Linked DNA regions of Homo sapiens: all the other regions are reported to be linked to region 3. The links are microRNA targets in miRTarBase. Many come from high-throughput screens and were not tested one by one. Region 3 holds a microRNA gene; each other region holds the end of a gene's coding sequence. Distances are between the middles of the regions.

What was found. The annotated mature microRNA hsa-miR-558 reads UGAGCUGCUGUACCAAAAU and lies in region 3 at 2,948-2,966, opposite strand. An mRNA with a match to its seed (bases 2 to 7 or 8) in the 3' UTR can be bound and repressed. Matches are read on the target gene's strand: a 7mer-m8 pairs with bases 2 to 8, a 7mer-A1 pairs with bases 2 to 7 and ends in A, and an 8mer does both.
Region 1: miRTarBase lists SELENOS as a target of hsa-miR-558. The part of its 3' UTR that is shown has no 7-base or 8-base seed match.
Region 2: the mRNA of HES6 is a reported target of hsa-miR-558. Seed matches in the 3' UTR shown: 7mer-m8 at 6,261-6,267.
Region 4: miRTarBase lists ANKS1A as a target of hsa-miR-558. Seed matches in the 3' UTR shown: 7mer-m8 at 6,115-6,121, 8mer at 5,758-5,765, 7mer-m8 at 3,886-3,892 and 8mer at 3,726-3,733.

Annotation. Positions count from the first base shown.
Region 1 is chr15:101,265,832-101,273,601 of GRCh38, reverse strand. SELENOS (selenoprotein S) reads left to right here. Exons shown (of 6, transcript NM_018445.6): 6 at 746-1,411. The coding sequence ends at 831. Among named protein-coding and RNA genes, the nearest start is that of SELENOS, 7.8 kb to the left of the region's middle. RefSeq lists an enhancer at 5,997-6,531.
Region 2 is chr2:238,232,354-238,239,838 of GRCh38, forward strand. It overlaps HES6 (hes family bHLH transcription factor 6), which reads right to left. Exons shown (of 4, transcript NM_018645.6): 1 at 7,472-7,485; 2 at 7,308-7,394; 3 at 7,134-7,215; 4 at 5,914-6,898. The coding sequence ends at 6,474. It also overlaps the pseudogene TARDBPP3. Among named protein-coding and RNA genes, the nearest start is that of HES6, 3.9 kb to the right of the region's middle. RefSeq lists enhancers at 1,889-2,390, 6,116-6,684 and silencers at 2,091-2,220, 2,371-2,460, 7,408-7,485.
Region 3 is chr2:32,528,179-32,535,178 of GRCh38, reverse strand. MIR558 (microRNA 558) reads right to left here and starts at 3,026; the gene lies at 2,933-3,026. BIRC6 (baculoviral IAP repeat containing 6) reads right to left here. Exons shown (of 74, transcript NM_016252.4): 60 at 5,355-5,528; 61 at 3,628-3,824.
Region 4 is chr6:35,087,107-35,094,813 of GRCh38, reverse strand. It overlaps ANKS1A (ankyrin repeat and sterile alpha motif domain containing 1A), which reads right to left. Exons shown (of 24, transcript NM_015245.3): 24 at 3,408-6,208. The coding sequence ends at 6,205. Among named protein-coding and RNA genes, the nearest start is that of TCP11, 50 kb to the left of the region's middle. RefSeq lists enhancers at 5,695-6,520, 6,521-7,348.

The DNA of each region.
Region 1 (7,770 bases), not on the chromosome of region 3:
TTTAGACACATAGAGGTGATATTTAGGAGAGGAATGGAAATCGTAGAAGATGGAATGCAGGGTGTGCTTGCCTGCACGGCCTCTTTCAGCATCCCCAGCATTTCTGAGCTGGGACTTTTGACTAGCCTGGCTTTACAAATAAGGAAACTGAGGCACAGTGTTTAATTGCCCAAAGATTCCACTATAAGTAAGGAGTAAAAGTAACATTTAAGTTCTGGGTGGCCCTAGAACCTTAGCACTCAACCAGGTTACCAGTTGTGCACTGACTTTGGGAAGCTCATGAGGGAGTGGGGTGGTTGGGGGTAGGGAAGGATACAGAAGACCCCGTTCTGACTGGTAGAAGTGACAAGTTTGACTCTTGATTTTTTTTAATCTGTTTTCTGTAGCGTGAACAGCCCTTATTTGAATGTATGAGTTTTAGTAAGCACTGTGATAGGAGGATTCATATACTTAAATCAGGCCCTCTTGAGAGAGTTTTTTGGTGACCCTTTTGCATGTGTTTCGGAGGTTGGGACAAAGAAGCTGAATGACTTTTTTCCCCACCAGACAATCAGTTCAAATGGCAATCACAATATAAAGGTTTTTTTTTTTTTCACATAGCTAAAAGGTTTTTTTAAATGTCCCTTAGGATCTGTATCTTTGCAGTGCTTTGCGTGTCACTCTCATAATTTTATTGTGGATATACAATGTTCCCAGATTTTCAGATTTTTATCAATACTGTTGTGCTGCTTTTCTGTCCTCCCAGGTTATAACCCGTTGTCTGGTGAAGGAGGCGGAGCTTGCTCCTGGAGACCTGGACGCAGAGGCCCGTCATCTGGCGGATGAGGCTAAGAATCTTGTTAGTGTCACTTTTGACATTAGCAAGATGAACCCTTAACCCTCGATTCAATTGCCTTACGCACGCTTTTCACAGTGACTAGCCAAGGGGAGGTGGGGTTGATTTCTGTTCCTAACTACACCTGCATATGTCAGGGCTCCAGTCAGCAAAAGGTATAGATGTTGCCTCTAGGCATGAGGTCATTGGTCACATTCTACTTGGAGACAGTGATTGCATTCATTGATTTCATGGTTAATTGCTAGTTGGTAGGTAAAGGCCTCTAGATGATTAGCAATCTTGATAAAAGAGGCCTAGTAATGTTCTTTTGAGGTTAGAAATCCTTGCTGCTAGGACAGTCTCTGTGACAGGTTGCGTTGAATGATGTCTTCCTTATCAATGGTGAGCCCACCAGTGAGGATTACTGATGTGGACAGTTGATGGGGTTTGTTTCTGTATATTTATTTTTATGTACAGAACTTTGTAAAAACGAAACTATTTAAAAAACAAGAATAACATTTTTAGCATCTTTATTCAAGGAGATTTATGGACTTCAATTTGTCTATCAAACATTAAATAGCTTTTTATTACAACCTCTAACTATTACTTATTTCTCTATTTATTATTACTCACCCAAAATAAGTCTGGCAAGTGGCAGACAGCTGCCGTGATTTTGAAAGTTGACAGACTCCTTGGGGTTCATCCACAAAATTGGGTGCTTGGAGTCGAGTTGCCGAATTACTGGGATAAAGAAACATCGTGCCTCAAGGTTCCTCATAGGCTGACCAGGTTTCTACGTGACCTCTCAGTTATTCCCTTACGCCATGACTCATCTTTTACGCTCTTGTCCAGAGGCACTATCAGCAGTTTTGGATAAAGAGCCAAACAGTAAATATTTTAGACTTTACAGGCCACATATGATCTCTGTCACATAGTCTTAGGTTTTTATATTTTTAAAGGATTGTTTTTAAAAAAGATTCTCTGCTCATGGGCTGGATTTGGGCTGAATGCTGTAGTGTGTGGACCCCGTCTAGATCATCAGAAGGAAAAACATTAACCTTCAGAATAGGGGGTAATTCGCTGCAAAAGTACTATAGAATGGTCTCATACATAAATTAGTCAACATTTGTTATCTCCTGCAGGTAGAATATTCCGTGGTTGCTTCTTGACCAAGGGAAATACAGTCTGGCTGTGAGAGACTTAAAATCTCTTGAGGAGCGCTCTGGAGAATGGCTGAAGGAGAGGAAACAGGAGCCTTGAGCAGTGTAATTACAAACAAATAGGTTGGCATAGTCTTAAGTCTTTGAGTCTAGAGAGATTTGAGTTTTGTTTTGCCTGTGGAGGCAATTGGGGGTTTCAGGTCAAAGAGAGGGTCAGTGGAAACAAGGGTGGGCCTTGTGAGGTGTGGGGAAGCCCTGGGACCCTCACTCCCCTTCCAGTGTGTAACTGGATTGGCTCCCACCAGCCCAGAAGATTTACGACGTGGGAAATGGTATACTTGGATTAAAATATTTCATCCAGATTTGTTTACATCTAGAGAGAACCCCTTGTAGGTTATAAGGAAACTTTTTAACATTCTTCCTTGAATATATTTTCTGTAGCTGAAAATGTTTGTGAAGTGGCTGTCAACTACACATCGCATGAGTAGAGGGGCTCTGGGTCGGGGTTTCATATGCAGCAGAGCAGCTCCCTTGCTGCCGTCCATCAAGAGCCCTCAACACAAGAGTTTGTTATAAATAGAAATAAACGACAAAAAGTAGAGGGGTATGTTTAAGTACACTATTAGATGTGACTGACTACCTTGAAACCTGATTTTTTTCCATGGGGAGAAACAGTGCTTGAATTCTGCATGCCCCCCTTGCATCTAGCACCTTTTGGTAGGGGTGGAAGGAGGGTGTCAGGGAGAATGATTAGGAGATAATGGAGGGGAGGGGAAACTTGCGTTGTGTAATAGCATTTGAAGAGCACTTACCACGTGGCAGGAGTGTCCATTTCTGTTTGATCCCCCTAGAATCCTATGAAACGGGTATGTTACTAACCTTGGTTTTCAGAAACTGAAGCTTAGATGGGCTTAGTAACTGGTCCACAACGCTACTCGCTGTAGTCTACTTCATCCTTGTGTTCATATTAGCCAAAGGCCTTAAGTCATCAAGGTGTGGGAAGCTTCTTGCAGCTAATGAAACAGTTATGTGGCCAGGCACAGTGGCTCACGCCTGTAATCCCACCAGCCAAGATGGGTGGATCACCTGAGGTCAGGAGTTCGAGACCAGCCTGACTAATATGGTAAAACCCTGTCTCTACTAAAAATACAAAAAATTAGCTGGGCATGATGGCATATGCCTGTAATCCCAGCTCCTTGGGAGGCTGAGGCAGGAGAATTGCTTGAACGTGGGAGGTGGAGGTGGAGGTTGTGATGAGCCAAGATCGTGCCATTGCACTCCACCCTGGGCAACAAGAGCAAAACTCCATCTCCAAAAAAAAAAAAAAAAAAAAAGTTATGTGAAGTAATAATACAGTGAAAATCACATTACAGATCTAGGGCATTAAGCATTTCAGAAAGGTGGACTGAGCTTGCCAGGGAAAGCAGGTCTTGGACCTTTCTTGAAAAAATGAGAAATTGGGGGCAGAGGTGCAAATGCCAAAAGCTGAGGCCCCTGGGGAAGAAGGGACGGCCAGAGCCATAAAAACCATGCTTCAAACCTAGGCCATGTGCTCACCTTGTCCACCAGCAGAGGCTGCTGTGGGGCTCGCGGTGTGTCCTGGCAGTTGGCAGGAGTTTGGGACAGACACTGGGAGCTGTGAAGTTTTAGATAATGTGTGACGCACCCTATCCCAATCATGGAGCAACATGAGTAAATTGTGGGGCAGAACACACAAGAGTCTTCAATTGGAATGCTTAGGAGATAGAGTTGTGCCCTTGGCTAAATGTTTGAGGAGAAAAGACTTGAACGACCACGTTTGGATCCCATCACCGCCTGGATCCCATCCTCTCCTCAGGGACTCCACTCTGCGCCCCCTTCAGATAGGTAACATGCCAAGTCTGTCTCTTCTTGGAAAGAGCAAGGCCCCGTCAAATGCGCAGCCCTGGGTGCCTCTGGGTGGGCGTTTCTCACCCTACTCCTTAGCGATGTGGAAGGTGCCCTTACTGAGTTCATCCCATTTCTCGTGCCAGTGGAATTTTGGTCTCGCTGTATTTGACTTGACAGCACATTTCCTACATGCCCCTCCTCGCAGCCCTCCCTTCTGGAACACTCTACACACTGGATCTTAGCCCCCGTGACAGTCCACACCTCTCTCCTTTGCCAGTTGTGCCATGGTCTCTAGTCTTGAAAAAGTGTTCTGTGTTCCCTAATTTCTCTTCCTGCATTTGCTGTTAAATCCATTCTGCTGAAGCTGCTCTTCAGGTCACGTGTGGCAGGGGGTGATGGGTCGCCTCGGTCCTCGCCTGAAGTTAGCATCCTTTGCGGTCCTTGAGCACTCCTGAAGAAACACCTCCCTTGGCTTCCAAAACACCGAGTTTGCCTGGCTTTCTCCTACGTTTCTGGCCACTCCTTGTTCTCTTTTGCTGCTTTTTCTCACCTTCCTGAAACCCCTGGGGTGCCCAGAGCTGTCTTTAGACCTGTTCTCTTGGCCACATTTGACACAGTGTGTCTCCCCCTTTCTCCCCTGACTAAGGGGAAGAAGTCAGGTTGCAGTGAATGCTGTGTGTGCTCGGAGCATCCAGTCTTCCTCTGGCACAACTGTCACATTTCGTTGTAATTGTGTCTTTTCTTCACTCCAAGACAAAAGGAGTGGTCTCTTTGGTGTGTGGGTGCATCCCCGGCAACTAGAACAAGCCCTGACATAAGCGCCCACCTCATGGAGTTAGAAAAGGCAAGAAGGAAACCATCACTAATGTCACGTGGCGAAAGTGGCATTGTGGATACCACATATGTGCAAACGCATCTTCTAGTGATTCTGTAGACGGGTAATCGTGGCTTATGATAAAATATCAGTGTCTCATACCCCAATTCAAATGCTCTGTTTCGAAGAACTCACAGAAAATTATGGGCTCTGGGGAACTAAAGGCTCAGAATGGGCCTGGGGGTGCCGAGGATGCTGTGGACAGTGTAAACACAGGCCCCGCCCTGAGGGCCTTGACATCTGTGGGGGAAGACGAGCACTGCATGGCCACAGAAGTAGATGACGATAGCTGATGAAGGCCCATAGATGGGAAATACACATTCCAGTAAGAAATGATGTGACTTACGAAGACCTAACTTAGGTTTATTCTGTAGCTACAGATTCCACTTCTGTGGAAGTAGGGGTTGGAAGTTGTAGGAAATAATTTAGAGATGAAACAACCTTTTCCTCTGTCTTAGCTGCCGTAATAGTACCACAGATTGGGTGGTTTATAAACACCAGGCATTTGTTTCTGGAGGCTGGAAGTCCAGGATCAGGGTGCAGGCATGGCCGGGTTCTGGTGAGGCCTTCTTCCAGGCTGCAGATGGCCAACTTTTCGTTGTGTCTTCACGTGGTGGAGAGAGCTCTGGGGCCCCCATTATAGGTGTACTAATTCCATCATGACCTAGTTAACCTCCGAAGGCACCCCCCCAATACCATCACCTTGGGGGTGAGGATTTCAAATGCTAATTTGTGGGGGGACACATACATTCAATCCATAACAACCACAAACCAGGAGACTCTAGTGTTCAGTATTAGTACAGCTCCTAACACTCCTGAGTAGCTATGTCCGTCTTGGGGTCTACGTGGTCCTTTGCAGGTTCTGAGGGACCTTCACTGGCCCCTTGCTGCCTTCAGCATCCTGAGAGGGGGTCATACAGTGCCACCAGACCAGCTTCAGGAGAGCACGTCTGCAGATGTTGATACAGGTTAAGCCCGCTTCTCTTTGAAGTAGCTATTCCAAGCCTCCACTCAGCTCACTTCAGGCTTCTCTTCATCATCACCCAAACAATGGCAAACGCTGTAATAAAAAGGGCTCATCATGAAAAAATGCAAGAGAAGTGAGCTTGCCAGGGTGACCTCTGATTTGGAAGATGGTCAGCTCAGTGTTTCCAGCATCTGGACTGCCCTGAACATAATGACTTCAAACAACCATTTATCCCGAAGATTCTGCTGGGCTGGCTCTGCACTCATGCTTGTGGTCAGCTGGCGGCTGGCAGGGCCCAGTGGCCTCCCCCACATCTGCCCGCTGGCTGGCGCTAAGCTGGGCGACAGGCGACTGGCCCATGTGTTTCTGCATCTGCGGCTAACCCGGATTTGTTCATTTCCAAGGACTGTGTGCCCAAGTTTTTCAAGCTGCTGCTTGCTCCACACTGCTACCTTCCCACGGGTCAAAGCAATTCATAAGGCCAGTCCCAACGCAAAGGCTGGAGGAAGGCACAGCCTCTCGGTGGGAGGAGCTGTCGAGTCACATTGCAAAGGCGTAGATGCAGGGAGGGGAAGAAACTGGCCATTTGCAGTAGAAGGGAGTCTTCCGGGTCACACAGCCTTAGTATACATCTTTGCGTCTGTGAAACTTCTCCCCATCTGGATCAAAACTGCCCCAACTTGATCTTTGAGGATCATCCCCAAAATTTATAAGCAAGAGAGTTACCCGGCAAATGTGAAGACTCCTGTTCTGACCAATACACTCCACCTGAATCCCAAAAGAGCCTAGGACATGGCCTGTATCAGCCGGAAATGGCATCTCAAATTGGCTGGCTGAGGAGCGTTCAGTAAACGAGCTGTTTGCCAGGGTGCAGACAGGGTTAGGCATGATACAATCCGGGTGGCTAGCAACATCGGGGAACCTTTAATGCCCCCAAACCTGAGAGCAGTTACCAGGACCTGGGGGGAGGGCCGCCCGACAGAGACCAGCCTTCAATAGAGACGCCAGCTCTCAGTGACCCAGTGAGAAGGACCACGATAAATGACCTTAGTCTCCTCCCACCCACCAGTCTTTCTGCCTGTGCCTCCCATTGGCTGAGCCCAGCTGAAGGCATGAGCCTCTGGGGATGGCATTAATATCTCTTTTTGTTGCTTTTTTTGGTTTTTTTTTTTTTGAGATGGAGTCTCACTCTGTGACCCAAGCTGAGTGCAGTGGCGCGGTCTCGGCTCACTGCAACCTCCGCCTCCTGGGTTCAAGCCACTCTCCTGCCTCAGCCTCTTGAGTACCTGGGATTACAGGCACACACCACCACGCCCGGCTAATTTTTGTATTTTTAGTAGAGACAGGGTTTCACCTTCTTGGCCAGGGCGGTCTCAAACTTCTGACCTCAGTGATCCTCCCGCCTCGGCCTCCCAAAGTGCTGGGATTACAGGCATGAGCCACTGCGCCCGGCTTTAATATCTGCTAAGCTCATTAACCGATGCCTGCACTCAAGGTGACTGTTAGGGGTTGAGTTGTGTCCCCCAAAATGTGCTGAGGTCCTGCCCCCAGTATCTGTGAATATGCCCTTATTTGGAAATAGAATCTCAGCAGATGTAACCCAGTTAAGATGAGATCTGCGCAGAGGGTGGGCCCTGAGCCAATGTGATTACTGTATCATTGGCTAGGGCTGCCGTAACAAAATGCCACAGACTGGGTGGCTTCAACCACAGACGTTTATTCCCTCACAGTTCTGGAGGCTGGAAGTTGGAGGAGGTGCTGCAGGACTCTCCTCCAAGGCCTCAATTCTTGGCTTGCAGATGGCCACCCTCCTGCTGCCTGGTCACAGGCTCTTTTCTTTGTCACAGTTACCCCTCCTGCCTCTCTGTGTCCTAATCTCTTCTTACAAGTACATCGGTCATACCAGACTAGGGCCCACTCTGATGGCCTCTTCTTAATTACTTCTTTAAAGACTGTCACCAAATATAGTCACATTCTGGAGTACTGAGGGTTAAGGCTCCAACATATAAATTTTAGGGGGGACAATTCAGCTCGTAACAATTGGTGTCCTTAGAAGAGAAGAGGCCGGGCGTGGTGGCTCAAGCCT
Region 2 (7,485 bases), 210 Mb from region 3:
AGTTCTTCTCTCAGTATGGGGATGTGATGGATGTCTTCGTCCCCAAGCCGTTCAGGGCCTTTGCCTTTGTTCCATTTGCAGATGATCAGATTGCGCGGTCTCTTTGTGGAGAGGACTCGATGAAAGGAATCAGCGTTCACATATCCAATGCCGAACCCAAGCGCAATAGCAATAGACAGCAAGAAGTGGAAGATTTGGTGGTAATCCAGGTGGCTTTGGGAATCAGGGTGGATTTGGTAAGAGTAGAGGGGGTGGAGCTGGTTTGGGAAACAATCAAGGTAGTAATATGGGTGGTGGGATAAACTTTGGTGCGTTCAGCATTAATCCAGCCATGATGGCTGCCCCCCAGGCAGTGCTGCAGAGCAGTTGGTGTACGATGGGTGTGTTAGCCAGCCAGCGAAGCAGCCAGGCCCATCGGATGATAACCAAAGCCAAGGCAACATGCAGAGGGAGCCAAACCAGGCCTTCGGTTCTGGAAATAACTCTTGTAGTGGTTCTAATTTTGGTGCAACAATTGGTTGGGGATCAGCATCCAATGCAGGGTCGGGCAGTGGTTTTAATGGCGGCTTTGGCTCAAGCATGGATTCTAAGTCTTCTGGCTGGGAACGTAGACAGTGGGGTTGTGGTTGGTTGGTATAGAATGGTTGGAATTCAAATTTTTCTAAACTCATGGTAAGTATATTGTAAAATACATATGTACTAAGAATTTTCAAAATTGGTTTCTTCAGTGTGGAGTATATTCAGTAGTATTTTTGACATTTTTCTTTAGAAAAAGGAACAGCTAAAGGAATTTTATAAGTTTTGTTACATGAAAGGTTGAAATATTGAGTGGTTGAAAGTGAACTGCTGTTTGCCTGATTGGTAAACCAACACACTACAATTGATATCAGAAGGTTTCTCCTGTAATATTTTATCCCTGGACTTGTCAAGTGAGTTCTTTGCATGTTCAAAATGGAAGCCATGAATTAGAACTACATTCTTTATTCCTTGTTTTAATTTGAACCCCACCATATGGATTTTTTTCCTTAAGAAAATCTCCTTTTAGAAGATCATGGTGTCACAGTTTGGTTCTTTTGTTTTGTTTTTTAACACTTGTCTCCCCTCAAACACAAAAGTACAATATGAAGCCTTCATTTAATCTCTGCAGTTCATCTCATTTCAAATGTTTATGGAAGAAGCACTTGGTTGAAAGTAGTGCTGTAAATATTCTGCCATAGGAACACTTCTGTCTACATGCCTTCTCATTCAAGAATTCGTCATCACGCATCACAGGCCGCGTCTTTGACGGTGGGTGTCCCATTTTTATCTGCTACTCTTTATTTCATAGAGTCGTATCAACGCTGTGAACGCAAGGCTGTGATATGGAACTAGAAGGCTGTTTGAACTTTTGAAACCTTGTGTGGGATTGACGGTGGTGCTGAGGCATGAAAGGCTAGTATGAGTGAGAAAAGGAGAGAGCACGTGCAGAGACTTGGTGGTGCATAACGGATATTTTTTAACTTGGCGAGATGTGTTTCTCAATCCTGCGGCTTTGGTGACAGTGTGCAGACAGCAATGATAGCAAATAATGTACGAATGTTTTTTGCATTCAAAGGACATCCACATCTGTTGGAAGACTTTGAGTTTTTGTTCTTAGATAACCCACTTTATTTGAATGTGTTAAGTGAAATGATACTTGTACTCCCCCTACCCCTTTGTCAACTGCTGTGAATGCTGTATGGTGTGTGTTCTCTTCTGTTACTGATATGTAAGTGTGGCAATGTGAACTGAAGCTGATGGGCTGAGAACATGGACTGAGCTTGTGGTGTGCTTTGCAGGAGGACTTGGAAGCAGAGTTCAGCAGTGAACTCTGGTGTCTCAAAGAAGGGTAGAAGTTCTAATGTCTGTTAGCTACCCATAAGAATGCTGTTTGCTGCAGTTCTGTGTCCTGTGCTTGGATGCTTTTTATAAGAGTTGTCATTGTTGGAAATTCTTAAATAAAACTGATTTAAAAAAAAAAAACCAAAAATCTAAGTAAAGGGGTCGGAACTACATCTCCCAGGAGGCCCCGCGGCTCGCCTCTGGCGGGGCGGGGCTGGAGGGGGCGTGGTCAAGGCCTCGGCTCCTCCGAGCGCCTCCCAGCTCACGGCGCCCCCCGAACCCGGCTCCAAGGGACTCGGTATTCCCCAGCGCCGGCTCCGGGCAGTCCCGGAAGGGCTCAAGGGCTGGGCGACTGGCTGATCGAGACCGTCCGGGTCCTGGCTCTCGGGTCACTTGCAGAGGCCTGAGCAGAGCGTAGGGAGGGCTGGAAGGGAGGAGCCCCGGGGGGCGGCGGTGCTGAACCGGGTAGAGTCTTGAAGGTCACGGTCAGGACTGGAGTGGGAGGGGAGTCAGAGGCCTGCTGCGGAGGCCCAGGTTAGAAACGAGGCTGCCTTGGACTCGGTCGGTGGCAAAGAAGACGACACGTGGAGGCAGGGCTTAGAAGTAGAGCTCCGCCGGGCTTGGTGGCTCACGCCTGTAATCCCAGCACTTTGGGAGGCCTAGGCGGGCAGATCACGAGGTCAGGCGATCGAGACCATCCTGGCTAACACGGTGAAACCCCGTCTCTACTAAAAATAGAAAAAATTAGCCGAGCGTGGTGGCTGGCGCCTGTAGTCCCAGCTACTTGGGAGGCTGAGGCAGGAGAATTGCTTGAACCCAGGAGGCGGAGGTTGCAGTGAGCCTAGATCTCCCCCACTGCACTCCAGCCTGGGCGACAGAGTGAGACTCCGTCTCAAAATAATAATAATAATAATAAATTAATAAATAAAAATAAAAAAGAAGAAGAAGTAGTGCTCATGGGCTTGACTGATAGGACGTGGGATGGCAGGAAGAGGGTGAACTTGAGGGTGACATCTAGATTTTTTTGCTCAATCCATGGGGTACCAAGAAGTGGTAATGCCTGAGGATCTGTTGTTTTGGTGGTGGTGTGAGCCCATCTGACATCTAAGTGCAGTCACTGAGTGGACAGGAGGATACAGAGGAGCCAGCCGCCTGGAGAGGGGCTTTGAATCAAGGGCATGGGATTGGCAAAACGGGCCAGATGGTGTCACTGGGTGTGGGGGCGGCAGGGAAGGCTGAGGACAGAGCCTTGGGAAGAACACGTCCAGTTGGAGGGCGGCAGGGAAGGCTGAGGACAGAGCCTTGGGAAGAACACGTCCAGTTGGAGGTCGGCAGGGAGGAGCATTGAGTACAGGGGACTGAGGATGGCCGATGAGGTAGAAAGAAGGCTGGTGTGGTGCCCTTGAGACTGGAGAAGGAGCCTCCAGATGGATGAGTCATAACCCACGAGAAGTGAAGCTGACATGCGGACATGCCCACTGGGTTGGGAAACATGCTCGTTACTAGAGATTTTGACTGTGCAGTTCCAGTGGAAGGGTGGACAATAGCTTGATTGGAAAGGAATGAAGAGGAATGGGATGCGTGGAAGTGGAGGCAGTAAGTGTAGATGACGCTTTCAAGGAATTTTGCTTTAGAGCATTGAGACAGAGGCTAACAGTATGTCACATCCAGGGAGGTTCTTCCGAGTAAAGGTATTCATATTACAGCCCGTTTGTAGGTTAATGAGAATGATCCAGAAGGGAGGAGAAGCTAATGGTGCAGTGGAGAGCAGAGTCCCTGAGCAGGTGAGCAGGGATGGGGGCCCATGCCCATGTCGGAAGCGGGCGCCACACTGCTTCATGATGGAAGGCAGAACGCCTGGGCCAGGGTGCAGGCAGGTGTCACAGAGAATGTCCTTCATGACCACATCCTAGTTCCCAGAACCTGCGAATATGCTACTTTACATGGCAAAAGGGAGTTTGCAAATGTGATTAAGAATTAAGCTAAAGACCTTCATACAGGGAGATTATCCTGGATTCTCCAGGGGGCTGGTGTCATCACAAGGATCTTTAAAAGTAGAAGTAAGGAGGAGACGTGACCAAGGAAGAAGGGTCAGAGAGACGCAATGCTTCCGAGGAACTCTGAGGATGGAGGAAGGGACCATCCTCCAAGGAATGTGGGTGGCCCCTGAATGAAGAGGCAGGAGAAGGCACACAGCCCTGCCTGCCAACACCTTGATCTTAGCCCAGTGAATCCTGACAGACTTCTAACCCGTGGAACTGCAAGACAATAATCGTGTGTTTGAAGCCACCAAGAGTGTGGTCGTTGGTTTTGGCAGCCATAGAAAAGTAATACAGTGGGTCAGGGATCCGGGTGGGAAGGAGACAGCCCTCAGAGAAGGGATCCGGGTGGGAAGGAGACAGCCCTTAGAGAAGGGATCCGGGTGGGAAGGAGACAGCCCTCAGAGAAGGGCTTGTGGGGAGCCTGGGGGTGCTGGGAGAGGAGCTGGTGTGAAACAACCAGCTGGCTGGGAAGCTGGTGGCCCCAGGCTGCACCGCAGGCAAGAGCAGCTCTCAGCCCCAGGAGGCCAACAGTGGTCACTGGTGTGGGAGCCAGTTACATTTCCAAAAGAAGCTGCACTTGAGGATTACTGTGAAGCTGACTTTAGGGCTGGAGGGGCACAGGGCCAGAGTTCTGGGTTAGTGGCTTCTGACTCTGGTCCTAGCAACGCTTTTACTCCAGGTCAGCCTCCTGCACCTTGCCTCCTGGGCTTCCCCTTGACCCCCTCCTAGGGCATCTGGGAAGGTGTGATGAGTGGACTTGAGAGGTGAAAGTTGTTCCTTTGAAGCAGTCCATGGCTGATGCTCCCTGAATGGCATGAGAGCTCATTGGCATGGCCTCTGGGTGCTACTGGAAACCAGGGCTTTCAGGATGGCCCGTTATCCATCCGTGTCCTGGTGGGTACATCCTACATCAGCCTGTCTGAGGACATTAAAATAATCCCAGGAATGATATTTCCATTGCTCAAGACTTCTTCTGTGGCACTGGCTCCCCCACTGCCCCAATAGCTCGGCTCCAGATGATAAAGCTGCATCTGGTTATAGCCCAATGGCTTCTATGATTGAATTGAGGTGAGCCAGAGTGAACCTCAAACTTTGAAACACCCCTGGTGGCCAGGACCTGCTTGGGGGCTTTTGTAAAGGGGCTGCTGGGAAAGGTGTTCTTAAGGCAAAAGCACATGTCCAGAGAGGAGACCCCGACGTCAATCCTAAGTTGTCACACCTTGGCCCTAGCCTGGGGACTGCCAACCCACAGTGAGAAGCTGCTGCTTTGGGGTCCTGGAGCAGGAGGAGGGGGCTAGGCTAACTGTGGCGGTGACTTCAGCCGGCTGACCACGTGCTATCTGCAGGTCTGGCCGAGCCCAAGAGGGCAGGCTCCCGCACCCCAGCTGCCCATCCTGCCACCCTCCATCCCTGAGGGTTCTGACCTCCTGGACCCAGTTTGACCTAACGCTCAAGCCCCCTGGGGCCTTGGCGCTTTCATTTCAGGCCACAAACTGGGTGGGTCTCCTTGACCCTGAAGTCAATGGCAGCAGTGGGGAAGTTCCTTCTTCAGTCAAGATAAGCAACAACCTCACACAAGTAGACTCATGTCTATGTCATGCTCGTGGGTCCTAAAACAGGTCTTTAAAAGATACTTTCAAACCAAATAGGTAGCAATTAGGCATTATTTTATTATTCCTGAAGCTCATGAACAAGAAAATGGCACAGAGACAGGTCATCTCCCTATTGCTGAGTTACCCTGGAGACAAGCCTCATGCAAACAAACTCCTTCTCCAGGACACACAATGCCCAAGAACAGGCTGGGTCTGAGGACCTGCCTAGCATGGGGGGCAGAAGCACTGCCTGCTGCAGAGACAGCCACGGAGTGCATCCCCACCACCATCACACTGCTCACTCTGCTGAGAAAGGGTGAGGTTTTAAAGGACATTCACCAGCCTCAGATGCAGGGGAAATGTGCTTAGTTTAGCATTTACATATCTTGACACAGTAATGACACATCACTCAACAATACTTCAAGGGTAACTAACTCCAAAATTCTTTATTTAGTAAAATTGTCACATTTGATGTCAATGGAATACACAAACTCAAGTGTGCTACAAACAAGATGTACAGAGCATCACAGCTCTGGGCAGTGCAGCTCAGTGCACCTGCCTCTCATCTCCCCGCTGAAGTGGCAAGTTCAAGCTTTTGTTTAGCCCAGGGCTGCCTGGAACACTAGTGCCCAGCACCATTTCTGCCACCTCTGCCCCCAGAGCCCGCACAGGGCTGGTGAAGCCTGGGTGGGTGAACCTGGGAGAGCGCTGGCAGCTCTACAAAATTCTTCCTCCTGCCCGTAGCTCCCTCCCTCCACCCACTCCAGAGCTGCAGGGTCCCTAAAAGTTTCTTAAGAAACGGGGCTGGGGCCTGACTGGGCTGGTTACCAGGGGCTGCCCTGCAAGCCATCCATCAGAGGAGGGAGGGAAGACCTGGGAGACTTCCAGGGCCCTACCCCACCACATCTGAACCCCTGGGAGGAGGGAGGAGATCCAGGGAGGGCCGGGCCCACCCCCGCAGGACTCTGGCTGGCATTGGTCACCAAGGCCTCCAGACACTCCGGGCAATTTGGGCTGTGGTCAGGCTGCCCAGGGCTGCGGGCACCAAGTCGGGCCCCTCAGCAGGAGCCTGACTCAGTTCAGCCTCAGGGGCCTCCTCCAGGTCGGAGCACAGGTCGTCCCCAGGACCCGGGGGGCTGGGTATTGGGGATCCCGGAGCGCCCCCCGCAGGCCAGCCACTCCGTCCAGGGGCTCTAGGTGGCCCCGCCAGGGCGTCCCCCAGCAGATCCTGGAAGCTGCTGCCCTCACGCAGCGGCATGGACTCGAGCAGATGGTTCAGGAGCTCGGCAGCGACGGTAGCGTCGATGGCCTGGCACGTGGACACGAACGTGTGCACCTCGTGCATGCACTGGATGTAGCCGGCAGCGAAGCGCTCGCTCGCTTCCGCCTGCAGCTGCTCGCGCTCTGGGCCCGAGGGTGGGAGGGAGAGAGCCGCGTCCCGCGCGGTGAGCGGCGACTGCGTGGCCCAGCCCACCCGGCCCGCGGGGACGCGGCTCACCCAGGAGACGCGGGGGCGCACCCTGCTCCGGTGGGAGCCCTCGCCGCCGACAGGACAGGGGCGCCGGGAGGGAAGTCCTCCGTCTGGCAGGGGTTACAGGCGCCCGCGGCCGGCGCCCCCGCCCGCCCCGCCGCCACTCACCGCGCGCCCGGCCCCGCAGCACACCCTGGACCCGCCGCACCGTCAGCTCCAGCACTTCGGCGTTCTCCAGCTTGGCCTGCACCTGCGCGGGCGGGAAGGGCGGTGAGCCGGCAGCGCGCTCCCGGACCCGCCCGCCCGCCCCGCAGCCCCACGGCGCCTGCCCGGCCGCCGCACCTCGGCGCCCGCCAGCAGCAGCCGCAGCTCCTGCAGGCTCTCGTTGATCCGCGCGCGCCGCTTCTTCTCCACCAGGGGCTTCCGGGCCTGCGGGGAGCGGGGCACTGAATCCCAGCCCCGCACGGCCTCCCGCCCGCTTGCTCGCCCATGGCCCCGGCCCGCACCTTGCGGTCCCCTC
Region 3 (7,000 bases):
GCTTTTTTTTTTTTTTTTTTTTTTTTTTGCTTTTTTGGGGGTATGAGGTCTTGTTATGTTGCCCAGGTGGTCTGGAACCCGTGGGCTCAAGTAATCCTCCCGCTTCAGTCTCCTGAGTAGCTGGGATTTCAGAGATGCACTGCAGTGGCCAGCTGTCTTTGTTTTTAACCACTTTTACCATGACAGTTCCAGGCATGCATATCCTGCATGAGTTAACAGTTTCTTACATGTTGAATTGAGATTTAAGTTTTACATCTATTTGGGAAATTTTTCTTCTTCTCAATACTGTTTCTGTCCATGTTTCAACTCACTCTTCTTCTCGGACTATAAATTCATGTAAGTTAGAATTTTTCACTTCAGTCCATACAGCTCTTATGTTCTTCTCATTCCTTACACTTTCTATGCTTCCATTTGAACCATTTTTTTTTTTTTTTTTTTTTTTTTTTTTGAGACAGAGTCTTGCTCTGTCACCCAGGCTGGAGTGCAGTGGTGCGATCTTGGTTAACTGCAGCCTCTGCCTCCTGGGTTCAAGCAATTCTCCTTCCTCAGCCTCCCGAGTAGCTGGGATTACAAGCGTCCACCACCACGCCCAGCTAATTTTTGTACTTTTAGTAGAGATGGGGTTTCACCATGTTGGCCAGGCTGATCTCAAACTCCTGACCTCAGGTGATCCGCCTGCCTCGGCCTCCCAAAGTGCTGGGATTACAGGCATTAGCTGCCGCGCCAAGCCGAATGATTTCTTTTGATACATCTTCCAGTTCACTACTGTTGCAATCTGCAGTGTCTCTTTTTTTTTTTTTTTTTGAGATGGAATTTCACTCTTGTCACCCAAGCTTGAGTGCAATGAAGCCATCTCGGCTCACTGCAACCTCCACCTCCCGGGTTCAAGCAATTCTCTTGCCTCAGCCTCCTGAACGGCTGGGATAACAGGCACCCACTACCACACCGGGCTAATTTTTGTATTTTTAGTAGAGACGGGGTTTCACCATGTTGGCCAGGCTGATCTCGAACTGCTGACCTCAGGTGACCCTCCTGCCTTGGCCTCCCAAAGTGCTGGGATTACAAGTGTGATTACAGGATTACAGGCTAGGATTACACCATGCCCAGACAGTGTCTCTTATTAAACACACCTAACAGTATCCTTAATTTGATATATTAGAAATTCTCAACCCATCCCATATAGCTAGTAGTATCCTGACACCAAAACCAGACAAAGGCATTACAACTACAGACCAAACTCTGTATTAGTTTTCTACTGCTGCTATAACACATTGCCACAAACTCAGTGGCTCAGAACAGCACAATTTATTATTTTAAAATTCCAGAGGTCAGAAATCCAAAACAGGTCTTATGGGACTAAAATCAAAGGATGCATTGCTTCTGGAGGCTCTTAGGAAATAACAGTTCCTCACCTTTTCCAGCTTCCAGAGGCTACTTACGTTCCATGGCTCTTGGATGCTTCCATCATCACATCATATCCTCTATTCCTCGCTTATGCTTAGACGGCTGAGGAGATCCATGAGTTACATGCCTAATCTCTTCAAAGAGCCCTCTATGTGACTGAATACTCTGACTTTTGATGTTTCTAAGGCACTAGCAAAAGGTTGTCCAGCCTCACTCTTGGCTTATACTTTGGAGCATGCTTTTCTGATAGCAAATATCTAAATTTTAGCACCTTCTGTGATCTGGATAGGTAATTTCACAAATTGACAAGCACTGATTGCTTGTTTTTCAACAGTTCTTCTCTCAATTTATATCTTTCCTCGCACATTTCACTATAAGCAGCAAGAAAAAGACAGGTTGTACTTTCACCACTTTGTGTGGAAATCTCAGCTAAACATCCAAGTTCATTACATGTTCATTACATGTAAGTTCATTACATCCAAGTTCATTACAGCAGAAGTGCTGCTTTCTATATTTAGGACACAAATGAGTTAATAGTTCTGCTTCTATATGACAAAGATCCCTTTTCCTTCAGGTTCCGGTAACATGTTCCTCATTTCCTTCTAAACCACCTTGTCAGCACTTTAAACACCTGTATGTCTACCAAGTCTGCTTATGACAATTCAGATATTCTCTAAGACACTGTAGGTTTTCTCCCCTATGATCCTTACTTCCTTCTGGGCCCTCACTGGCAGAAGCTTTATCATCCACATTTTATCTAACAATCTATTCAAGGTAATCTAGATTTTTTTTTTAAATCATGCTACTCAAAATTATTCCATACTCTGCCAAGTACCCAATTCTAAAGTCACTTTCACATTCTTAGGTATGTATTACCAGGACCCCATTTCCAGTTACTAATCAATATAGTGAACCACACTGAATACTAAATTAGAAAAAATCATTTATGTTGAGCAATAATAATGCTGAAAATGTTGGGGTCTTTTCTGCTTCAAACTTTTGAGTAATTATGTCATTGTCTAGTAAGAAAATTTTGCTCATTCTGTGTCAATCACCTTATAACATAGTTATATCATCTTATATTTTTGAATACTAGGGAAGCAATAACATGAATAAGTATTATTGTGTGTTGCATTTTGTCCTCCCAAGATATGTTCAAGTCCTAACCCCTAGCACCTATGAAGATGACCTTATTTGGAAATGGGGCCTTTGCAGATGTAATCAAGTTAAGATGAGGAGATAATGGTTTGCAGGACCCTACATTAAATGACTGGTGTCCTTATAAGGAGAAAGAGATACAAGGACACACAGGAAAGATGGCCATATGACGACGTAGGCAGAAATTAAAGTGATTCAGCTACAAACCAATGAACAGCAAGAACTACTGGCAACCAATAGAAGCCAGGAAGAAGCAAGGAAGGAGTCTTCCCTACAGCCTGAATTCAGAGGGAGCATGGCCCTGCTGATATCTTGATTTCAGACTTACAGCCTCCTCAACTATTGAGAATAAATTTCAGTTGTTTTAAGCCAGCCCGTTTGTGGTATTTTGGTACAGCAGCTCAGGAAACTATAATAGAGTCTAGAGCTACTATACCAAAATAACCACACACACACACACACACACACACACACACACACACGACATGAAATCAAAGAGAATAATTCCCCTACTTCATTCAACAAACACAAAGTTTTGTTTTTACAACTCTCCATGCACCATACTTCCTACTGATTGATACAAGAGCATGGAAAGCACAGACATTGACAGCTTCGTAAATGAACACGGGAATAGGTCATGTTTTTAAACCACCAAAAATGGAAATGGCACCTGAAACAGGAATAAAAGGTAAACAAAAAGACATATATTGGTGGCAGTATACACTGCTATTTTACTTCTCCTATTTCCAATAATATCTCTAATAAATATCACACTTAAAGCAGCATAGAAAAGAGAATGCTAGTGTTACAACCATGAAATCAAGATAAATGCAACAGTGTAGTAAGTCTGGCAAGTGTGCTTGATCTTCAACATTTCTTCCATACCTACTGAAGGTCATGAAGCTCTGTACAGACTGACCATTGAAAGAGTTATATAATGTTCAAAAAATATAAAGCAAAGGGTATTTCTACAAAGTTAATCCAAGTACATTAAAAAACAAACATTAAAAAGAATGAAGGGCTTAGCTATGGAATGATATACTCGATTAGGAAATCTTATCTTACCTGTTGAATTACTTCTGGATATAGCATGGGTAGTCTTTCAGCAATAAGAGCCAGTCCACCCATTCCTGCAAAAACTTGTAATGGTGACTGAATTGGACAGGTTTCAAGCAAAGATTCATCCAGTATCCCATCCATGCATTCATCACCTGGAGTGAGAGCCTCATCTTCTGGACAGCTAGCAAGTAAGTCTCCATGATCTAGACAATAAATTACAAATAACTGAATAGGTAAGAAAGGGTATATTTTTATAATATTCTTTCATTTACAAAAGCAGGTATTACTGCTTTCTTGCTACTCAAAAAAGAGCACAAAACATCATTTATTTAGATATAGCTGTATTATGGCTAGACGGTACAATGACCTTTAAATGACTTCTGATACTGCCTTCTTTAGTCTTGTTATTGGAAGAATGGTTCATGGACTAGTAGTATTGGCATCACCTGCAAGCTAGTTTGAAATGAAGAATCTCCATTTTAACAGTATGATGCTGGTCATTTGTAAGCATACTGAAGTTTGAGAAGCACTGTCCTTTAGGGCATACTTTAACGTATATCCTATGTTAAAATAAATAAGTTCTCAAAGTTCTCATAGCAAATAATATGCTCTAAAGTATCCTATTAAGAAAAATTAATGACAAAGACTTCCCTTACTTAAAACAAAAAATTATACCATATTAGTTTAACTCTGAATTACTCACCAAAGAAAACCAAAAGGTCACGTAACCAGACCCTTTAAACATTAAAACAAAAGAGAGAAATAATCGTGCTGAAAAACTGGGCAAAGACAATGTACCAAAATTTGCTGAAGAATACAAAAGACCAATAACTAAAGACTGAATTTTAGTCATGAGAAAGATGGAAAGTTTAAGTAAGTTCATATCATACTCACACTATGAAAACTACTTATATAGCATTTATAGGAGTAAAAATTGGAAACAACCACAATGTTTCGATGATTGGGGAACAAATAAATTTTCTTACATTTTTATGAAAAAATAGCCAATTCAAAAATGGATATTCAAAAATATTTAATGGAATATAAGGGCCGGGTGCGGTGGCTCATGCCTATATCCCAGCACTTTGTGAGGCCGAAGCGGGCAGATAAGTTGAGGTCAGGAGTTACAGAGTAGCTTGGCCAACATGGTGAAACCTTCTCTCTACAAAAAATACAAAAATTAGCCAGGCATGGTGGTGGGTGCCAGTAATCCCAGCTTCTCGGGAGGCTGAGGCAGGAAAATCACTTGAACTCGGGAGGCGGAGGTTGCAGTGAACTAAGATCGTGCCTCTGCACTCCGACCTGGGAGACAGAAAAAGACTCTGTCTCAAAAAAAATTAATGGAATATATAAGTAAAAAACAAAAATATGTGATCCCAATTATATGAGAAAACATGTTTATATGCAAGAAATGCCACTCAATATAAATTATAACAAAGTTGTAAGTTGAGTTTCTCACTTTTATTATAAAATGACAATTCACATAGCTCTCACAGAAATATCAGAAATTAAAGTACATGCGCTCATAAAACAAATGATGTTATAAGAAATAATGCAACTTAGTTTCCAAATGAAATAATGGCCATTTTTTATATTTACAAAAATTCAGTCATAAAAAAATTATATCTTATGTTGATATAATAAAAACACAAGTCAATTAAGTCATTAGCTATAGAAATCTCTGCCTCTTTGTATGACAGTCTGTAATTTTTAAAGTAGTATTATGCACATACCTTTTTCAGGGTGTAGTCTTTTATAAGAATCTGTTTTTGATAGACTGGGGTCTGTTATAACTCTTGATCCCAATTTAACAGTCAGATCTATTGAGCGGTAACCCTGAGGAAGTTTTCGGTCATATAGGAGAGTTAAAAGCTGGGCAAGTGTCATTTCAGCTGGCAATGGCTGGCCTAAAATGATATAACTAAGTTAAATCTGGAAACCGAGAAAGAAACATTTACTTGGTTTAATTATTATCTGCTTTTACTAAATTACAGGCAAGAGTTTGATTCTGAAACCAATTTCAAAACAATTAAAAAATTCAACAGCCATTGGAAAGTTTACAAAAAGTGAGTTTATTTCTGACATATAATAATGAACAATAATGTCTGTGAAAGTGTTAAAAAGTCATGGGCAAAACGTAAACAAAGGAACAGACATTTCCATAAATCTGATGTGGGACATTTTTTTCTATAAAAGGACAGCTAATAAATACTTTAACCTGGGGGGGCCATATAGTCTCTGTTACAACTGCTAATCTACATTGTAGCAGAGAAGCAGCTATGGACAATACACTAGTAAATGGGCATAGCTGCATTCCAACAAAACTTTATTGCAGGCAGAAGGCAAGACTCACATCACCTAGGTAATGGGCCATGAGATATGTCACAAGGACCTCTCTGGACCAAGGTATCCAACCCACCAGTCGATAGTTTGTTCGCCTCCACCATGAATCAACAATGTAAAGCTAAGAAGAAAAATTCCTTTGAACTGAGTTGGCAATTTCATTTTAATACAGCATGAAAATGGTGATAAAATAGAGGATGGGTATCCCTCATCCAAAATGCTTGAGACTAGAACTGTTTCAGATTTCTTTTTTTTTCTTTTTTTTGCATTTTCTAATATTTGCATGTACACAATGAGTTATCTTAGGGAGGGGATCCAAGTGGAAACACAAAATTTATTTTTGTGTGTATACACACATACACACATCCCTTATATACATAGCCTTAAGGTAATTTTATACCGTATTTTTGATAATTTTGTGCCTGTAATAAAGTTTGTGTACCCTGAACCATCAGAAAGCAAAGGTGTCACTATCTCAGCCACCCATGTCAACAAGAGTCATCATTCCTGACTCTTAATCTACATGCTAACAATAGGCAATTGTTTTCTTACATTTATTCATACATTAAGTACTTAACAGTAAAAATATGACATACCATTAACACTGAAAAAATAATGTGTCAGGACAACTAAGCAGCATAGTAGCATCACCAGGATACCTGTTTCAGCTATTAAACAAAACCAACCACAGAGCCGGGGGTAGTGGCTCATGCCTGCAATCCCAGCACTTTGGGAGGCCAAGGCAAGTGGATCACCTAAGGCCAGAAGATCAAGACCAGCCTGGTCAACATGGTGAAACCCCGTCTCTATCAAATATACAAAAATTAGCCAGGCGTGGTGGTGGTCGCCTGTAATCCCAGCTACTCGGGAGGCTGAGGCAGGAGAACTGCTTGAACCCAGGAGGCGGAGGTTGCAGTGAGCCGAGATCACGCCATTGCACTCCAGCCTGGGCAACAAGAGTGAAACTACGTCTCAAAAAAAAAAAAAGGAAAAAGCAGCTACAAACAACAGCAGGCTTTCAGTCTTCACCTATGAT
Region 4 (7,707 bases), not on the chromosome of region 3:
ATGTTAGATCTTTTGTTATGGTCACACAGGTCCCTGAGATGCTGTTCATTTTTTTCAATCTGTTTTCTCTCTGTTGTTCAGATTGGGTAATTTCTGTTGTTTTGTTTCCCAGTTTATGGTGCATTCTTTCCTTTCCCATCCACTCCACTCTTAAGCCCATCCACTGATTTTGGTTATTGTATTTTTTTAGTTCTAGAATTTCCAATAGGTTCTTTATATCTTTTATTTCTTTGCTCAGACATTTGACTTTTTCTTTTGCTACAAGTGTGTTTATAATTATTTGTTGAAACTTTCTTATGGCTGCTTTAAAATATTTGTCAGATAATTCTAATATCTGTCCATCTTGGTGCTGATATCTTTTTTTTTTTTTTTTCCAGACGAAGTCTCACTCTTTTGCCCAGGCTAGAGTGCAGTGACGCAATCTCGGCTCATTGCAACCTCTGCCTCCCCAGGCTCAAGCCATTCTCCTGCCTCAGGCTTCCGAGTAGCTGGGACTACAGGTTTGTGCCACCATGTCTGGCTAAGTGTTGATATCTATTGATTACTGCCTTTTAAATTCAGATTGAGAGTTTTCTGGATATTGGTATGATAAGTGATTTTCTATTGAAACTTGGACATTTCTGTTTCTCATTCTTATTTAAACCTTCTCTTTTAGCTGACTTTGACACCACTCTAGCAAGGGAAAAGGAAATAGCATACTACTGCCAGGTTGGGGGTCAAAGCCCAGCTTCCCCACCTGGCCTCCACTGACACCTGAGGTGGGAGGCTGCTTGTTACTGCTGGGGTGCCGTGGCACTCCCGGCTGCCCCTGTAGTTTCCACTGACTCCCAAGGCGGGAGCAGCATCACAATCACTGGGCGCTGGTGAGCGTTCTGTCTCTTCACCAGGCCCCCTCTGACAACATGCGTGAGGTTGTTGGGCACCTCATTATAGCTTTGTGAGGGCAGAGGTCTTGGCCTTTGCTGATCTGGGTGGGGCCCCATTTTTCCTGTGGTGCTTGGCTGGAGTAGAGCAGTTATTTATTGTCTAAATTTTCTGTCTTGCTAAGCTGCCCCTTTCCTGGTCCTCTGGCTGGGAAGAACAGGTTTTTGTCTGTGCCCACTGGTGTTTCCACTGGGGGTTTTAATCGTACTTAGTGGGAAGAGCAGGGAAAAGAGCATCTACTGATCTTCCGAGACATAGGCGTTAGTTTACTTTTGATAGCTGTTGTCAAGGTGTCCTTGTTACATGTGGTGCACATGTTAGTTTTCCATTGTTTCTTTTTCTCAAAGGTGCATTTTGCTATGCAGAAATGTTTAGTTTTTATAGACTCAAATATATTAATCCTTTTTAAAAAATGGATTCAGGGTTTTATAACGTTTGGAAAGGCCTTTCTCAAACCACGCTTATTAAAAAAAAGCCTCCCATTTTCTTCTAGCTTTGAGTTTTGTTTGTTTTTTTGTTTTTACATTTAAATATGTGAGCCATCTGGAATTTATTTTGGCATAAGTTGGAACAGGAATCTCCCTGCACTCCCTCCTCCTTGGCTGCCCAATTGTCCCAGCTCCATTTACTGAGTAATAAATATTTTATGGTGTTAGGAAAATTCTATTTGGTAAATAGTTGTTTATAATAGTGTTCCTAACAGCCGAATCCTGAAAAAAGCGGTCTCAAAGTCGTAGAGGCTGCACGGAGGAAGGGATGGTTCAGACTTTAGCTTTCCTTGTTGTTAGTTGATGACAGTGGGTGCAGTGTGAGCCCCAGGCTGAACTGCATGACACACTAGATAGTCGGCCTGTCCCTATTTATGGGACTTGGATACCCTCTGGGTTCAGGAAGTCAGGGGTGGCCATGGCTGACTAGAGGGTGTTTTGAGCTGCCTTGGAAAGTGCTCCAGCTTGAAAGTTCCTCCTCCGTGGCCTGGTCATTGCTGAGGATTGATCTATCCCAATTTTCAGTAGTAACAACCCAGCTGTCTAGGAGCCTGAGCATCTGTGAAGGGGAGGCTCATGAGGATGTGGAGGAGTATGACAGAAATGAGCCCCTGAAGGGGGAGAAAGGAATGAGTGGAAGAGGCCAGGGATTGTGCCTCACACAGAGGCAGAATGTGTAAGGTGGTCCCAGAAGGGATGATGATAGCAGCTATGTGTCCTGGTGCCCTGATGACACTAGTTATGACCTGACCTTTCTCTTCTGGCTGTCAGGTTTCTTCTGCTTAGGAAAGAGCGCCATAGCCAGGGAGCCAAGGGATGTGGGGATGAAGAACCCCTCTGGAATGTGAGGCCTCCCCCACTGGGCCTCAGTGGACTTTCCCAACTCAACGCAGTGTGGCCTACAAAGCCCTAGTTGGGAGTTACAACCTGGGATTTGGCTCTCTGCCATTCGCTGGCAGGCTGGCTAGGAGAGAATCATTTTCCAAGTCTGGACCTTGTTTTCTCTACCAATAAAAGAGGTTAAGTTTTAGACATAAACAACTATTGTTTATGTTCAATATGGGTACTGAACTAGATAAGTGAATTTTCTTTTTTAAGGCCCTTTTAAGAAACGGAAGCGTCCACAGAAACTCAGGAATAAAAGCGTTCAGTGCTAGGCAGCTGGGGTTGAAACAGGCCTAGGAACAGGGGCTCTGGCAGCTGGAGCCACTGGACCAGATGGGGCTCAAGGTCCCTCCCGCTTTATGAATAGAGGCCCTGGGCCCTGCTTTATGAATAGAGGTGACAACACCTGTCCGGAAAGGAGTGGGGCTAATGAGATGGTTGCCTGGAAAGCTAGCAGAGCTGGAACACAGGTGCTCCATCAGTGAAGGGGCCAAGGTGCTCCGTCAATCAGTGAAGGGGCCGCTATGACCGCTTGCTTGTGCTTTCCCAAATTCTCCCCTTTAAATACAGCTCAGCACCCTGCCCCTTCCTCTCCCTGCCACCAGCCCTCTGGGAACACTTTGCCCTCTGCATCCCTACCATAGCACGGCTTCGGGCTGGTAGCTAGTTGTTTATGTCTAAAACTTAACCTCTGCAATCCAAGCAAGTTCCTGAAAGGAGAGCACTTTCTTTCACAGCTCTAGATCCCCCAGGCTGCCTGGGAGGCAGATGTTCGGTTCATGTCTATGGGTGGACAAGCCCAGACCAAGAGGCAGAAGAGATGCCACTGCAGCAGTAACTAGAATGTGGCCCTGGCTTGGTGTTCACAGAACGATGTTCCTAAGGAGGGGAAGGTGAATCCTGGGGCCCTTGCGCCTCACAGCACAGCTGTAACTAACTGTTTGTTAGAGAGTGCGAGACAGAAAGCCAAACAGCCAAGCTGTCGTCATCTCAGCCAAACGGTGTAGGATGCGAATCACTGATCCTGAGCCTGCGTCTCGCCTGTGCCCACGCCTCTGCCAGAAAACCATCAAGACGCTTTCCAATTCAAAGACTCAGAAGAATTAAGGCTGCGTTCATGTCGCTTCTCATTTATTAATTCAGTCTGTTCTAAGTTGTGTACAGTTATGAAAATAACAAAACCAAAGCTGGAAGCCCAGAAATATTTACACTCTCTTGGGTACTGAGGTCAGTCTATGTTGTTGCACAGATTGGTTATGTTTGGTACCTCAAAGTGTTTATAATTCAGACAAAATCAGACAGATTAACAATTTTATATACAGTAAAACAAAAGGGAAAGTCATTCAAGTATCAAAATACAGAGACAAAGATTAAATAACATTTTCATTACAGTTCAGTCCATTGCCACACCATGAGCAACAATACTTCTGAGCTGCTTTCTGCTGGCCTGGGCATCTCAAAGACAGACCCAATTCAGACTGGTTTTCTAATGTCTCTGACTGCAGCTCTGCCTGCTCCCTGCTCAAACCCGAGCATCTCGGGAACTCCCATTAGTGTCTGACGCTGGAGGGCCCAGGAGGGACGCAGAGAGCTGCACACGCAGAGCCTGTCGGGAAGGTCTTATGCGCTGAGCAGCTGGTGGGCAGGGGAGAAGAGGTGGACAAGAAGCCTGTGGCTGGGACAGGTACTGAGCCCATCTGAAGTCTCCCACCCGAATGGGCTCCTTCACAGTTCAGAAACGCAGCGACAGGGTCTGCCCCTGGTGTGACCTGCACTTGGAGAAGTGCAAAAGTAGGGGCCTTCCCACTTGAAGCCTGTCCTTAAAGTTATAATAACCTTTCTAGGAAAGGGAGACTACCCATCCCAGAGGAGAAGAAAAGAAAGAAAGGCCCAGTCATTTTCCTTTCTTGAATATTCAGAAATAAACCAATCTCTAAACAGAACCCAGAGCTAGAGCAGACTAGCCAAGGCTTCCAATATGAAAATACCCTGAATAAATAAAGATGATATAGCAGCTTCAAGCAGAAGAAACACCTATGGATGATCTAAGCACAAAAGACAGCTTGAGGAGTGCATCGTAGTGTCTGCGGTTTCTTTCGGACCTACCGCCCCGCCCCCGACAGAGGCCCACTTGGATGTGGCCTGGCCCCTTAGGAGGAAGACGGGCACCAGCATGTGCGCAGTGGCAGCGCAGTCTACTCTGGATGCTTTAGGGTTCCTGGTCAACTCTTGGAAGAAAGCCGGGGCCGAGAACTGTACAGCGGTAGCTCATGGGCATCCTCACAGGCCCTGAAAGGGGCAGGAAATGAAGTAAAACTGCAAGGTGTCGAGATCTTCGTTTAGTACCAAGAAGTGGAGGAGGGCCTGCCTCTACCGCAGAGAGAGCTGAGTCCCAGGCCCCAACCTGCTGGGTGCTTAGCAGATAGAAACCCACAAGGCCTGGCCTCTAGCCAGTCAGAGACACAGCCCCACTTCTGATTTCTGGCCAACCACATGGGTTAAGAATGTGCCTAACAGTACTCCCTGCACATACATACCAACAAAGAATTCAAATTCACAGCCTTTGCTGGCTGGGAAAGAGGAGTGTTGCTGAAGCCTGGATTATTCATCCTGGGACCTGATTGACCTATGCCAGGAAAGCTCGGAGCCTGCTAAAGTGCCCACAGGAGGAACTGGGCACACAGCTGAGCCAACTTTGCCTCTCAAATCCACAGCAGTTTCCCCTGCATTTCTACTCTAGTCCAGAGGGAAGAATGCAACCCAAGTTACTTTTAAAAACAAAGCGAGCAGCAGGAAAGCTTAAGAAGCAGAGGCGCACCGGGATGCCAGCCTGCCCCAAAGGCCACGCGGGGGAGCATCGATGCACTGTCACCTTATTTAGCCTTTTCCACACCGGGGGCCAGGGATGGGCCCAGCAGCCAAGTGTAACCGTCAAACCGATAATTCAGAGAATCAAAATGAGCCCCAATCACACAGGCTGATTAGACAAATCACAAATTGGCAAGTAGCAACCTTAGCTGACCCCACTCCAAGCATTAATGCCCCAAACAAAGCTGCTTTTCCTATTCTCTGACACAACGCAGGCAGTACGGCGCCGGCCAGCCCAGGGCAGTGCTCCGATCACTGACAGGTAAGAGGCCAGGGAGAGGCCTGGCGCTCTGGTGCTGGCTAAGACTTCCCAGCACTAGAAACTGCACACTTATCTTCATTTGGCCACTGAACCTTCCCATCGGGAACCCCAGAAATGGACCGGAAACCTTTGAGTTGCTCAGGTGCCTCTAAGGCTGTGTTCTTACGAGAAGCCTGTGTCTAGCCCCTGAAAGGGACAGGAAGTTGGGCAGTTCATAAAGAGCAGCAGCTGATATGGTTGGGTTTGAAAAGCAGACGCACCGTACTCAATTCTGCCTGAGCCTGCTCCGTTCCCCTCACCCACAGGCCACCGCCTTCTCTTCCGACCCACTGAGCTGCACCCAAGTTCCGTCCTGAGGACAGAGGCTATGCAGGCTGGCCTCTGAACCAACCTCAGCTCCCCTGTCCTCTGCCCCATGGCCATTTGTCTAAAGATTGGCAGTATGACCTAGAGGTTTGAGCCAAGTGTTAAAAGTTCATTTTATAAAAAGATTTTTTTTCTGTTAAAAACAATGTGTTCTGAACAAGTCACTTCTTGACCCTCTGGAATGCCAGTCCCATCTGCTAGCGGCCTGGAGTGCTTCTCCACAGCCAAGGCAGGGCTCGTTCTGCAGGACGTGGTGGTGGCAGGCCCAGGCCAAGTGGCCAAGAGGAGGTCCTGCAGGCGGAGGTGAGGCCTGGGTCTTCAGAGCTGCAGGTGAGGCGATGGCGGTGGTGGCAGTGGGAGCCTATGCCCCCACGTCTATGTTTCCGCAGCACAGTGTGGTTCCTCAGTGGCTCAGCTTGGCAGAAGCAAACAATGGGGGGAGGAAAGGGTTAACCAATGGGGCCTGCGGACGGTGGAGGAAATGGAAAGGAAACACAGAGCAGGACAGACGATCCCTCACAGCCTCCCCGGGGCACCCTCCATGCCTGCTTTGAGCACCCACAGCCTGCAGCCCCCACTGCCTCTGGCTCAGTGACTCTGCTCAGGAAGGCACAAGGATGGGTGGGTACGCAGGACCCACCCAGTTTATCGACTTGGGTTTTGACTGCCCTGGCCGACTGGCTTTCCTAGTGGACTCTGCTATGTGTGCACGGCTGCCTATGGGCGCCGCTTCCTTCCTGTCTCCTGCCATCCAAACTGATTTGCCCACACTGGAGAATGGGGTGCCTCTTCAAAGACTCAGCTCCACCATCCCAGCTTCTGAGCTGCTGCGATGGGACGGCCTCTCCTTTCGGAGGAGTCAGGAGGCTGAGGGAGGTGGTCAGGGGCATGCTGGACGGCGCTGTCTATCTGTGATCCCCCACCGTGGAGAGTGTCAGAAAGCTCCCAGAGGACAATGGAGGCCACTTGGTCCAGGTCCCTGTCCTCCAGCAGCTCTGTTCTGTGAGGGAAGAAGGTGCGCCGTGTGTGCAGGGCACAGGCCGCCTCCTCGTTGGTTCTACGGAAGGCCTTCCTCCTCAGTGAGCTAGACTCCAGAGCCAGGCCCAAGGCTGCCAGGCCTTGAGACTCCATGGCGAAGATAGAGGGGCTGTCCACACACATGCCACCCACCTCCTTGGAGGGGAAGGCCCATCAGGACTGAGACACCTGCTGTGTGAGCCAGCCTGTGAGTGTTCAGATACCCAGAGCCCCAAGTGGGGCAGTCAGCACGGACCCAAGGGCCTGGCGCATATCTTGGGCCCTCACAGAAAGCAGTCTGTCCCTGGTCCAGCCACATCACTGAGCTCAAGGTCTCACAAGGGCCTAGCCATGAGAGTGAGGCCAGCACCTCGGAGTAGCGGAGGACAGTGGGGTGGGGCTGCAGGCCGGCTGTGAGCAGAGTGCTGGGGACTCTGGCACTGGGTGGTCACAGTGGTTGGTTGGTTCAGGAGAGGTGAGAACAGTCAGCTAGCTCTTGGCAACGGTGCCCAGCTGTGGCTCAGTACAGCAGACAGGAGGAGGGAGCCACACAGAGCCCAGCCCAACCCTGGGGAGCTATCAGTGCCGTTGGGATCCTGCTGGAGACTGCCCTGCCCGTCGGGGTTCACAGTGCCTGCCCGTGGAGGCTTCCAGGGTGCAACAGAACCCCTGAGCCCTCTTGATGCCCACCTCAAAGGCAACTCACCCCCTCAAGCTGTCCTCAGCCCAAGGGGGAGAATTCACAGTGTTCGGTGGTGGTAGGTGCGAGAGCTGCAAGTGTACAGCGTCTACGCTGCCGCCCGCCCAAGAGGAGCAGGTCCCAGTGCAGGTGGGGCCTTGGCATCAGCAGCTGGAAGGAGAGAGTTGAGGACAGCAGAAAGATCGGATGGCAAAGGC